Regions from separate parts of the Homo sapiens genome. Here regions 1 and 3 are each reported to be linked to region 2. Evidence: microRNA targets listed by miRTarBase, many of them from high-throughput screens and not tested one by one. Region 2 holds a microRNA gene; each other region holds the end of a gene's coding sequence.
What was found. Region 2 holds the annotated microRNA hsa-miR-6856-5p (AAGAGAGGAGCAGUGGUGCUGUGG, at 1,438-1,461, shown strand). A microRNA usually pairs through its seed, bases 2 to 8, with sites in the 3' UTR of a target mRNA and lowers its output. Matches are read on the target gene's strand: a 7mer-m8 pairs with bases 2 to 8, a 7mer-A1 pairs with bases 2 to 7 and ends in A, and an 8mer does both.

Region 1 (4,345 bases), not on the chromosome of region 2:
TGTAACCAAATACCACCTGTACCCCAGTAACTTATGGAAAAAAATGAATGACAGCAGAGTCCTCATCAGAACCAATATTCCTCCTGAACATAGATAGAACTAAACAAGATTTTGACAAATCAACTCTAACAACAAATTACATAGATAATATGTTATGACTAAATGGGTTTATCCCAGGTGTGGAGGGTTGATTTAATGTTTGAAAATCAATGAACTAAAATAGACCACCTCAGTAGACAGAAAAATTATTTGGCAAAATCCAACACCCATTTCTGATAAAAACTCTCAGCAAACTGGGAATAGAAGGAAACTTCTTACCCTGATAAGGGCATATATGAAAAACCTACAGCTAACATCATATTGAAAAACTGAATGTGTTGCTCTTAAGATTAGGAACAAGACAAAGGTGTCTGCTCTCTTCACCACACCTGGCCGGATTTTTTTTTAAACTGTTTTATTTCAGTAGGTCTAGTTGTTCATCTTACTGGATTTCTTATACACTATTCTGAAACCTCTTGTCTTTGTGTTTAGATCATTTGGGTGTCTGAGGTTTATTTCTTTGATGTTTTTCATCAAAGCTGCTCAAAATACGTTATTGGTTTTCTGTGCCATTAAAAGTGAGCTCACTTCATGTTCTTGTTGAATTCTAACTGAAGCTCATTTCTCCCCTTTTTATTTTCAGATATTTGTATCTGCTGTTCTCCGGTGATGACCTTTTACCTTTAGACCACTGGGTGTTTAATACAGAGGCTCACCCTCTGCCTGTGTTACATTTAGCCAACACCACACTTTCAGGTAATCCTGCTGTTCGATGAAAGCAGTTCCAGAAGGACCATTCTCACCTGTGTTTTGTTTACATGGACCACTACAGAAATTAGTTTGAAGGGGCGGCTTTTGAAAACCTGGACCTCTATGTCAACATGACAGGGTGAAACTATTCCCCCTAAGACTGTTCAACTTGTAGATACATCAACTTTGAAATTATTCCATTTTATACCTGACCAAAACATGTTCTGATATGTGTAGGACAGAGACCTGGATGTGCTTTGATCGTTAATGAGGTGGTCACATGAGAAATGATACCTGTTACTACTGTATTGTTTTTAGAGTCCTGAAGTCTGGAGGCTAGACTTCCTGAAAGCAAGTCAAGAATATAGAGCACCTTGCAGGAGTTCAAGATGGCCTTTGGAACCAATTATGTATTTGTTTCCTCCTACAGTGGAGCAGCATTCAAATCAAATATTTACATATTGCTTATCACTTTTTCTCCATTTTAATAATGGAATGAACTAAAATAAACAAGAACAAAAGAATAGTATAATTATATCAGTAACAAGAAGACTCAAAAAAGAAACAGGAGTACCTATCCCTATCTGAATTTTCAAGTTCCCCATTGGATGACCAGACTGGCAACCATTTCAAATCCCAGTCTATTTCATTGAAATTTCTTGGTTAAGTTTAATTTTCTCTGGGGGCATGATCTCACAAAGAATACTCAAGTCTTTTTCTTCTTATGGAATCATCGAAACTGCTATTTATCATAATCACCACTTATGAGCCTGGGTTTGGGATTTTGTGCATGTAGTTCAGTCTAGTGTTGGTAGCATGACAGAAAGTGGGGAAAATGCCGCAGTTTGTTGCCTTGAAACCTAAGAGCAATCCTTGGTTTTGTTGCTACATTATTTTTCCAGACCAACACATCTACCAAGTAAATTTTATTCACTTTAATTTCATAATAAAGTTAGTAGAGTCACTCAACTTACAACTTTATTTATGTGGCTTGGCAAAAATCACTATAAGGCAGCTCTAAATTTGCCTTGATAAGCTAAATAAATTACTTTTATAACTTACTAAAGCAGAACAAACAGTGAAACTTTCTAAAATATTCTATCTGGAATAGGGACAGGGGATCTTTTATTTATAATCTCATCAGATGAGTGAGTTGTTCACAGATATTTTATGTTTTTTTAATTTTCTCCAAGAATATTTATAGAATTCCAAAGAATCAGAATAGTTTCAAAATAATTTTCAGTGATAAAAGAGTGTTGTAATTAATCATATTACACTAAAATTGGGATACATCTAAGGAACTTTATCTTACTATCAGTAGGTTTTGCATTGATATTTCTTTTTAAATAAACTACTAGTTCTTTATATTTTGACAAAAAGAACTTAAATTTTATCAGGAACTGTAAGATAAATATCTAGTGCTTATAAATTTTCTGTCCTTAAATTTATGTGACAGTGCAAGATACTTTTGCTCTTTTCATTTAATATAGGCATCTTCCATTGACATTAATAAAACTTAGAAACAGTATAATTAGTATAACATTTACTCTGAATTTGAAGATTTCCTGAAACAAAGTTTGTACAAGAAGCCCACCTTGGAATTCTGAAGGCTTATTTTCTTGTTTGATAAGCTTTTCTTTTAAACTTAGGTTTTAAGTTGGGGAAAGACTTAATTAACTAATATAGTATTTTCTAAGGTTGATCATCTTATACCACGAATCGTTAATTTTGACAGTTCTACTGATCCGTAAATGATAACCACTGCAAATTTTTTCAGTATAAAATTTTTCACTGCAAAAAAATTTCAGTAGAAAATAAGGATGCAGGGCCAGTTACAATAGTCCTTAAGAGAGTTAAATTATAGCACATGTTTTGACATTGTAATATCTTTTACTACTTGAACATTTAAATTTCTAAATGAGAAAGGTATATATATTACTGTAACTGTAGAAGGGAAAAGGGAAAGTATTTGGTTCTAAAAAATGTTAGCCTTCCTCGTAAAAGTAGCACAAGCCCACTTATGAATCACTGAGAAAAAGTGAAAAACTTGAGTTGGCAAAGATGCAGAGCAGCAGTGCAGATGGCAATGAACTCTCTGAATTCTCTTTTACCTTATTTAGAAGAATGCAGAGTAAAGGGACCTTCTTGGTTCTGCAGGAACTTCTCAAGGGATGAGGAGACAGAACCCCTACTTCCAAGTGCTCTATTTGTATTACCCAGATGACTGAAGCTTAAGAGAAGGCAGGGAAGTATACAAGCAGAGCCAGTTCTGGTACAAACAAAGAATTTGACAGGGACAATGGAAGGGTCTTCTTCACCACTCCTTACCTTCTATGTGATGGAAAGACTAGAGCTTATAAAAGTACTTCCATTTTTTTATTCTCCTGAATACCAAAGGCAATTAAAGTCAGCTACAAATGACTTGCCAGTGTCATGTTTTATTTTTGTTATAGATTTTTAAATTATTTCCTTCAAGATCAATTCTTATCCCATATAATGCTTAGCTTCCAAGAATATTCTTTACTTTCTTCTGTCTTTTACAGCTCTTTGCATTTTGTAGACCTTAATACTCAGGTTAAATATTCATTGCATTTATAAGATCTTCTGCAAAAAGCCCAGAAATGGTCCTTTTCAGGTGCCTCTTCAAAGAGCTGACACCTTACCTTGTGCCTTTGGCACAAATGTGCAGAATAGATACATCAGTTGGTGCATAATCGAAAAAAATAGGAATTTTGAACACTGTTCTTCCTTCTACATTTATTTCTCTTCATTTTAGAATCACACTTTTTATGTTAAACCAGATTATTATTATTATTATTATTCAACCAGTATTAAGTTGTTAAAACCAAGGGAATGGGGCCCTAACCAAAAAGAAGTCTCAACTCAGAAAAATAAGTCCCCAGTCAGGTGGTTCTTACTTTCTTGTGGGTTGCACATTTTGTATCTCTCTAACATCAGCGTATTCCTGACTTTAAGCAGGTGTTTATATGTAAAATAAAACCTGGGTATCGAAGGGAAATGCATTCTTTTTATGGAGTATTGACCCTGATCCTCTATGATGTCATATAGAGCAACTCAGGGCTATACTTGCTAGATTTTAACCAAGCAGTTTGAAATATTAATCATCATCCTCTCATCTTCTCCACTCTCCATTGCCAAAGTCTTTGTCAAAACTCCAAATTTGTTGATAAAAGATTGTGTTTGCCATTCTCATTTATAATGCAGTTTCTCCTTAAGCCTGGAGTTTTTTGAATGAGTGCATGAGTAAATGAGAGAATGTGTGAACGAACATTTATGAAGTATCTAACATGTGCCAAGCATTGTGCCTGGCACTTTCAATCATTAGAATGTTTTATGTGATTCCACAGCATTTTCTGTATGAGAGTAGCTCACAACATTTTAAATGTTTCCAATATGAATCGTGTTACAAAATTCTTAATTTTATATTTCATATAAATTAAAGAGGAAAAAGAAAAGGTTTATAATATATTTTAAAACAATGTGTTACTGTATAATACAACTATAATTGTAGTTAATAACTAAAACCTCTTGAAAA
Region 2 (4,000 bases):
CACCTGAGGTCAGGAGTTCGAGACCAGCCTGACCAACATGGTGAAACCCTGTCTCTGCTGAAAATACAAAATTAGCTGGACGTGGTGGCTCACGCCTGTAATCCTAGCACTTTGGGATGCCAAGGCAGGTGGATCACCTGAGGTCAGGAGTTCAAGACCAACATGGTGAGACCCGTCCCTACTAAAAATACAAAATTAGCCGGGCGTGGTGGCGCATGCCTATAGTTTCAGCTACTCAGGAGGCTGAGGCAGGAGAATTGCTTAAACCCAGGAAGCGGAGGTTGCAGTGAGCCAGGATCCTGCCATTGCATTCCCGCCTGGGCAACAAGAGCAAAACTCTGTCTCAAAAAAAGTTTATGAACCTTGCACTGCAGAGGCTGCGAGATGTTTGGGAGAAAACCTTTTCTTCGAGATCTGTGGCATACCCAGAAAGTTGACTGTGCGCTCCTGTGCGTGTGTGAACATCCATTCTAAAATTGCCTTGTTTACTTGGCAGTTGTCTCATAAGAGCAGAGTGCGGGGGAAAAGCACTCCAATTGTCTCAGCTTTCTGCTGGTTTAGATTCTGGGTAAACGTTCACTTTACTCTTAATCAACATGAGCAGGTTTTGCCCAACATTTCTTCATGTGTTGAAAAGTCTGTGCAGCTTCTCCCTTCCATGAAATAGCTCTTAGCTTGACCAGGTTCACCCTCCACATTTAAGAGAGTTTAAATACTGCAGCTCCAAAATGACTCCGCGGACAGCGGCTGGAATGAGACTTGCTGCTGTCTCAATGAAAGGGCTCTTCCTCTGTCCGCTGTTAGATTTAGGTTTTTCTCTCTGCTGGGTGAACAGTGGGAGAATGCCTCAGAGACTTCTCCAGCCCCACATGGGGAGGAGGCCTTGGCAGGTTCCCTCTGTTCCTCCCTTCTGAAGTATCCCTGAATGGTCACTCTTGAACCTGTTACTGCTGCTGCTGCTTGGGGGCACAACAGCCAAGAAGTTTTCTAAAACTGAGTAAAATCCGTTTATCCTTCTTGCTGACTGGAGTGCCAGGTGTTGTGACTCATAGCAGTGCCTGGTTGGGGAGGGTCAGCAGGCTGTGCATATCTGACTTCCCATAGGCCCAGTATGTGTCCGCCGCAGGAAAGAGGGGCCTCAGCTGCAAGGGAGAAAGCAGTTCTTGATGCCTGTAGATCGGGGCCCAGTGAGGAAAGCTCCAGGGAGAAAGGCCGCTGGGCTTCAGCCTTGGAGTTTGTGTCTGCCTATTTCTGTTGGATACATTTGAGCTGTTTATGTAACCACGTGTGTTCGTCTGCACAGGTCCTCCCCAGATACACCTGTGATCGGTGTTAATTCTGGCTTGAAAGAGCCCTTCAGAATGGGAAGTGTGGAAAGGTGCTAGGTTCTGATGGGTGGCATTGATTACATCCTGTCACTTAACCTCCTCCCTGGAAAAGAGAGGAGCAGTGGTGCTGTGGCAGTGGCAGAGGTCGCTACAGCCCTGTGATCTTTCCAGGAAAGAGACGGCTTTGGAGGCCTGGCAGCAGCCAGAGGAAGAGGTCGTGGCCGTGGCGACTGGAGCGTGGGAGCCCCTGGTGGCGTCCAGGAGATAACATACACGGTGCCAGCCGATAAGTGTGGCCTCGTCATAGGCAAAGGTAAGAGGCAGCTGGGGTTTCACATCCCCCCTCAGCTGTTTGGCTTGAGGGAAGGCAGGTCACGGGACCTCCAGAACCTTTGGTGAGGTCCCTTTGCTGCTGCAGGCTGGGGCTGCCCGGTCTGGAGGCAGTAGCCACCTTCTGCCGAAACCCTGCTTGGCATGGTTCTCTGAGGCTGCTGACGGGCCTGTTGTGAGGAGCAAAGTGTATTATTTCTGGTGAGTATGAAGAGACAGCAGTAAAACTCCCTGCCTGTTGAGGGCAGCTTAGCTTGGTGAAAAGATACCTTGCGCAAGATGGGGGGCATTTGTCAATCGACTGATTGGTAATTAACTCACCTCCAAGGAACTTAGAGGGACGGTTGAGACAGTATCCTCAGTGAAAATTCCTTCTCGACAGTGTGTCACTTGTTTCCCTTACCAGGTTTGAGTATTTGGTCTTGATCCGCGTAACATGTGAAAATGGTTTTTATCCTTTCTGCATATTTACCGTGAGTCACGGACTCTCTGTGGAGGGAAATAAACATTGATGTGTTAGTTTTTTCTGGGCATTTTGGAGAACATTAGGAAGAAACCCTCATTCATGGCTACTGTAGCTCCTTCCTGTCCTTCACTGAGAACCAGGAGAGAGCAGCCACATTTCTCAGCCATTGGCAGCAGTTCATCTTGGCTAGCCCTGGGACCCAGAAAGGCTACTGAGACCAGGGCCGAGGCTGTGGGGCCTTCCCAGTGTAGCAGCAGGGCTCGGCTTCCGTGGGGCTCTGAGCCAGGCCTCGCTGCCAGCGGGGGACTCCCGTTGTCACTGGGTTTCGTATTTGCCTTCATTAGGTATTTGACAGCATGTGGAGAAAACAGTCGTCTCTCCAGAGTTTCTCAAATTTCTTTGATCACCAAATACCCCTTAGCTGCTTGAGGGGCGCTCGTATTGGATAGGCAGGACTTGGGGATGCTTCACCAGCAGAGACCTCCAGAGCTGGGCAGGTGGGAGCCCCCCGACACTCACCTCCCAGGAGCTGCCCTCGTCCCTGCTCACAGACACTGTGGGCTTATGCTCTTGCAAAATGCAAGAAACCGTGTTGTCTTTTAGACTGAACCACTCAGAGTTGGTATGGGTTCGTGTTCATTTGCCGGCAGGTGTGCGGGCTGGTGAGTGTTTGGGGATATTGCAGGCTGCACCAGATGCTGCCAGAAGTCCCACACTACCCAGGCCGTCAGCCTGACCGCTGTGAGACTGCAGCTAGTTGATGCCTGTAGGTTGACGATTAGCTAGATCTAGATTTCTTGGCCTTTTGCAAACTATTTTGTCGGCGAAGTTTTCATTTGCTTGTGTCTCTAAACCCTGACTGAGCATTGTTGCCTCACCATGACAGGTTCTCATAGTGAGCCCTTGGTGCTCACAGAGCAGCCCCTCGTAGTTGGTCCTCCACAAAGTCATCCTGAGTGATTCCTAGAAAACAGTGATGAGAACGAAGCAGTAACTGGTCTGTGTCCCATGCTTGAATAGCAGCCTAAAGAAGCCTAATTAGTGTCTCGGATATGGGAGGGTCTTTCTATGTCACACACACACCGCACTAAACACACGCACGCACGCACGCACGCGCACACACACACACACACACACACCCCCTACCCCTCAGGGCCCATGTGAGACATCTCTTTTCCTTGAGATGGGCGCCTGGGCAAGGGAGAGAGGAGCCCCACGCAGCCAGGCCCATCTTTCCTTGGCCTCTGGCCTGGACAGACACAGAGCCTCCCTGGCCCCTGCTGGATTTCCATGATAAACACAGCAACATTGACAGATAGCTCAGCCAGCCTGCTCTTGTCAGCCAGGCCTTTTAGCAGGTTTGATTAATTGCTTTACGATTTCACGTCCAGCCAGGGGGCCACTGGTGGGGCACTTCTGCCCCCCATCAGGTAGAAGAATGGAGCGGGCTGCTGAATGAGTCTATAGACAGCCACCATGTGCCAAGCTAGTGACCTCATTTTGAAGGAAGATGAACTTAAATTAACTCCTTCTGGCCCCACGAGGTTTTGTGGCGCCTCCTCACCTTATTAGCATGTTCCCAAGGCCTGGGGATGAGGGGCCCAGTGGGGAGGGCCGGGGCCTCGGCTGTCTGGGGACTGCAGGATTCTCAGTCGCAGACACTCGTGTACTTGTGCTTTTGCCTCCAGACCAAGTGGATCTGGTTGGAGGCTGGTAGGGTTCCCTCGAGTCTTACGTGTGCCTGTGGAAATGGTCTCCATTTTGGTTTCTATTCTTTTTTATTTTTTTTTATTTTTTTGAGATGGAGTTTCGCTTTTGTTGCCCAGGCTGGAGTGCAGTGGCGTGATCATGGCTCACTGCAACCTCCGCCTCTGGG
Region 3 (4,345 bases), not on the chromosome of region 2:
TGGTCCCTGCCTCCTGAGACTAGAGCTGGAGCCTGTGGGAGCAGAGCCTGGAGACCAGGCCACTGCCAAGTCCTCAGGGCAGCCCCTCTGACTTGGCTCCCAGGCCTGCCACCTGCCCCTGCAGCCCTCCAAGGAGGGGTCGTGTCCCTCAGGGGTCCTGCCCGCATCGTGGGCCCAGCCTGCCAAGGTCTGGCTCGCTGCCCCTTTGACAAGCCCGGACTCGTCTAAACCGTAGCAGTGGATTCGGCTTAGGCTCCCGCTGGGCCCTGCTGTGCCCAGAAGGCACCTGACCTGCAGCAAATGCTGAGAAACGGCCCCACGGCGGCCCTGTGCCCTCCACAGCCACTCCCCGAGGAAGCGGCTTTGTGACCTGCATTGCTGTGTGTGTTTGTGTGCACATGTGTTTGTGCGGCATATGTTTGTTTCTGTGTGCTTGTGTTTGTGTGTTCAAGTGTGCATGTGTGCGTGTGTGTTTGTGTACGCATTTGTGTGCGTGTGCACGTGTGTTCGTGCATGTGTGTGTGTACGTGTGTAAGCCCACGCCTGCTGCCTTCCAGCAGCTCCGGAATGCTCCTGGCCGTCAGGTGGTGGTCCTCAGGGTCCCCTTCCCCTCTCCAGGCCACGGAGCATCACAACCAACCCCGTTCTCACACTACACCCAATCTGTCACCAAGTTCAGGGGACCCTACTCAAGCAAAGATCGGCTGGAACTTGCAGCCCAGCCGTTGTCCACCCTAGGCCTTCCTATGCCACAGCTGGGGCCCTGAGCACAGTCCTACTTTCGAAGCCACTTGCAAGTAAATGTGGGGGATTGGCAGCTTGCCGGGAGAACCTCCCCGGCACAAATGATCTTCCAACCTCAGCCTCCTGAGCAGCTGGGACCACTGGCGTGTGCCACAATGCCTAGCTAATTTTTTAGTTTTTTCTTTTTTAGAGATGGGGTCTCACTATGTTGCCTAGGCTGGTCTTGGACTCCTGGCCTCAAGCAATCTTCCTGCCTTGGCCTCCCAAAGTGCTGAGATGACAGCCGTGAGCCACCACGCCTAGCCATTTTCTTTTTTAAGCCCAAATCAGTCTCACCTTGGCTAGTATTAGCTAATAGTTTTTCCCACACTTGGCGGTAGAGTGAGGCTATGTGATTCATCTTCACACTGTGGTCAGGACCAACTGCTTTGAGGATGGAGCTCACCTTCCACCACGACCCAGAAGCCCTTGCAGGCTGTGACCCTGTCCAGCTCTGGGCTCCTGCCTCGGGGGCTTGGCACTCTAGTCCAGGCAGAGTGTGTGCTGCCTGCAGGGCACCCCCTGCTGTGTGGGCTAAGCACGCAGCCTGCAGGATGCCTTCCTCTGCACTGACCACCCATATCACACTCATCCCACTAGCTTGTCCTCCACCCACACTGCATCCCTGAGCTGGGACACGCAGAGGACAGGTGTGATGAAGGTGCATGAAATGAGAGGCAGACAGAGAGGAAAGGAGGCACAGGAAGGATGGGAGCGAGGCAGGAAGAGTGGACAGATTCACGGGGGCTGTGTTGGACCCACTGAACACAGAGCCAATGCCCCAAGACCCGCTCACAGATGAATGGGCGGAAGCCCCATCTTTCCATCTCTGCCAGGCCGTGGCGCTGGCTGCCCCTCCTCCCAGCCAGCGAGGGGACTTGCCCGAAGCCTTGACTCCCGGCCCCTGCCCAGTTCCCTTGCACCATGCCTGCCCAGCTCAGCAGACATTGCCGGGCCGTAGAGCACATGGCCCAGAATAGTGCTGTGATGCTGATGGTGACTTTCTATCACTGGGCCACCACACTGTGTGGCACCTCCTATCCCAGAAAGGAGAAACCTGGGGATGCCAGTGCGCCAGTGCCAGTCCAGCCATAAAGACGCAGTTATGTGTGAGGAGCCAACACGCAGTGCCAGGCTGCCATTCACGCGGGCCCTGCCCACTCTATTTCCGTTGGGAGCCTGGGCTGCCCAGGGAAGCCCCAGGTCCCGCCACCTGCTCTGAGGCTCTTCGTGCAGGGCCGAAGGAAAGTCACAGGCGGTAGCGTTGCTCTGGGGACTGTCCCCCTCCAAGCTGTCCTTTCCAGGACGACCTGTGTCCCCAGCATGCAGGCTTTCCCGGCCCTGACCTGGATCCTCTCTCTGGATGCTGCGTGTGTGGGAATGCCTTGCAGCCCAGGCTCGGCTCTGCCTACACACAGTGTCACCTGCCAGGGGGCTGGCAGGGGAGCCAAGGCCAGGCCAGTGCAAGTGGGTGCACACAGCACCCTGCCCTGGCTCCATTGGGCCCCTTCCCTCCTGTGTCACCCCCTGGGTTTTGGCGGTGCCTCGTTGTGAACCCTAGACTCCATGGAGCTGGGCAGGCCGGGCCCCGCTTAGATTTCCAGGCTCTAGCCTGGCGCCCTGCAGTCGGCGTGCTCTTGGCAAACGCTCCACGCTGAGAGGGCAGGTGCCATTCAGGCCTGGTTGGATTCTGGAGCCGCGTCTCAGGACAGCTGGGGCCATGGAAGTGTCTAGAAGGGAGGGGAAACCTCCCTAGTCCGGGCTAGCCCAGACCTGAGGGTGACGGGGCCCCTCTTCTGAGGGTGACGGGGCCCCTCTTCTGAGGGCAAGGAGCCCAAGGGCCAGGAGGGGCACGGAGAGGCCAGGCCGCCACAGGAGCAGCGCACGGAGCCACGTTGCACGGTGTTTCTTTAATGGAAAGACAGCCACCGACCTCAGAAGCAGCCCCTCCTTGCGCTGGACCAGAAGGATAAGGGGAGACCTAGCCACCAGTGGGCCAGTGGGGGTGAGGGGCTTCTAGGAAAACCGGTGTCTGGGACTCTGGCGGTTGATGGTGTCATCTGCGCGGGATGCTGGGCCTCCACCTCCCAACCTCCTCCGGGACAGTACAGGTTTGGGGGCAAGGCCTGAGCAGGGCAGGCTGGGGAGACTGCTGTCCCTGGGGTTTTGTGGGCAGGGGCTGGGTGCAGGCCGGACAGACAGAAAGCAGTCCCAGCTCAAGGCAGAAGGCCAGAGGGTGTGGAGTGAAAGGGACAGGCGAAGCCAGGTTCGGAGAGATGGAGGGAACAGGCCACCAAGCTCAGAAGCGAGAAAGGTCTGAGGAAGCACAAGACACACACACACACACACACACACACACACACACACACACACACAGAAAGAGAGAGAGAGAGAGAGAGAGAGAGAGAGGAAGGACGGGGAAAGAGAGAACAGAAGGGAGGACTGGTCGAAGGGCCAGTGGAGCAGGGGTCTGGGAGGGACAGGCCATGAACTTGCAAGGGGGCTGAGGGGAGCCGCAGAGTCGGGGAGGGTTGAAAGGCTGGAAATGCATGAGGAGGAGGAACAGAACATGTGTGTCTGGACAGGTGCGGCAGCCCTGGCAGAGCCCACTGTCCCCATTCTTATGGACCGCCTCCTGGCTGCTGACCCAGGGACTGTTCTCCTAGGACTGGAGCCTTGGACACTTGGGTTTGGGAGTGAACGAGAAAAAAGCTTCATGGGGTGCCTCTGGGTGGCTGTGGTGGGAGAGCAGGGGCAGCTCTGAGGCCAAGGGAACATGTGATGGGGGCCGGGCCTTGCGCCCACCTGCACCCTTGGGAGCCAGGGAGAGGCGGTGATGGGGCATCGAGCTGGGGTCAGGGACCCGAGGTGGGGGGCTGGGTTGGACGCAGCTGGGCCCTGGCTTAGCTTCCTGGCTCTGCCTCCCCATCAGGATGTCTGGCTGTGTTCCCCAGAGACCCCCACTGAGGCCCCGCGGTGGCTGCAGCTGCCTCTACTTTTTGTAGTTGCCAAACTGGATGGCCAGGCGGTCAGTGACGCAGCGGAAAGTGGCCGGCTGCACCTCCCAGTAGGGCACGGGGTTGTTGAAGAGGCTGATGCCGTTGTAGTAGGCCCGCTTCACCCCGAAGCCCATGGGACAGAAGTCGTTGACACCCACTTTGGTGATGTTGTTGGAGTGCAGATAGACCACCTGAAGGCAGAGAGGCCGGGTCACGGCAGGCCTCCCTCCCTCCACGCCAAGCCCGCTGCCTCCAGGAGGCATTTTGCTGTTGCCTCTGCACCCTACTTCAAGGGCCACACCAGAGGCTCCCCGTTGTTGGGAGGAGCAAACCAAGGCATGGGCGTGTTATTTGTGTGGGTGTCAGCCAGGATTAAGGCACTGGATGTGACCAGGGACAAGGATGAGGGTCTCAGGTGGGTCAGGTTGAGGACATGTGGGGGCGGGGCTGGGGTAGAGGTGTGTTTGGTGGTGTGAGGTGGAGGAAAGGTGGCCTGAGCCTCGGGGGAGCACCCTCACACTCCATGGGGCATGAGAGGAGAAAGAGCCCTTGGGATGCCCTCC

Region 1: the mRNA of MAN1A2 is a reported target of hsa-miR-6856-5p. Seed matches in the 3' UTR shown: 7mer-A1 at 3,734-3,740.
Region 3: miRTarBase lists BGN as a target of hsa-miR-6856-5p. Seed matches in the 3' UTR shown: 7mer-m8 at 3,187-3,193.

The regions. Positions count from the first base shown.
Region 1 is chr1:117,522,143-117,526,487 of GRCh38, forward strand. MAN1A2 (mannosidase alpha class 1A member 2) reads left to right here. Exons shown (of 13, transcript NM_006699.5): 13 at 683-4,345. The coding sequence ends at 815. Among named protein-coding and RNA genes, the nearest start is that of TENT5C-DT, 81 kb to the right of the region's middle.
Region 2 is chr9:130,624,865-130,628,864 of GRCh38, forward strand. It overlaps MIR6856 (microRNA 6856), which reads left to right and starts at 1,433; the gene lies at 1,433-1,499. It overlaps FUBP3 (far upstream element binding protein 3), which reads left to right. Exons shown (of 19, transcript NM_003934.2): 12 at 1,500-1,641.
Region 3 is chrX:153,507,876-153,512,220 of GRCh38, reverse strand. BGN (biglycan) reads right to left here. Exons shown (of 8, transcript NM_001711.6): 8 at 2,675-3,973. The coding sequence ends at 3,776. Among named protein-coding and RNA genes, the nearest start is that of ATP2B3, 7.6 kb to the left of the region's middle.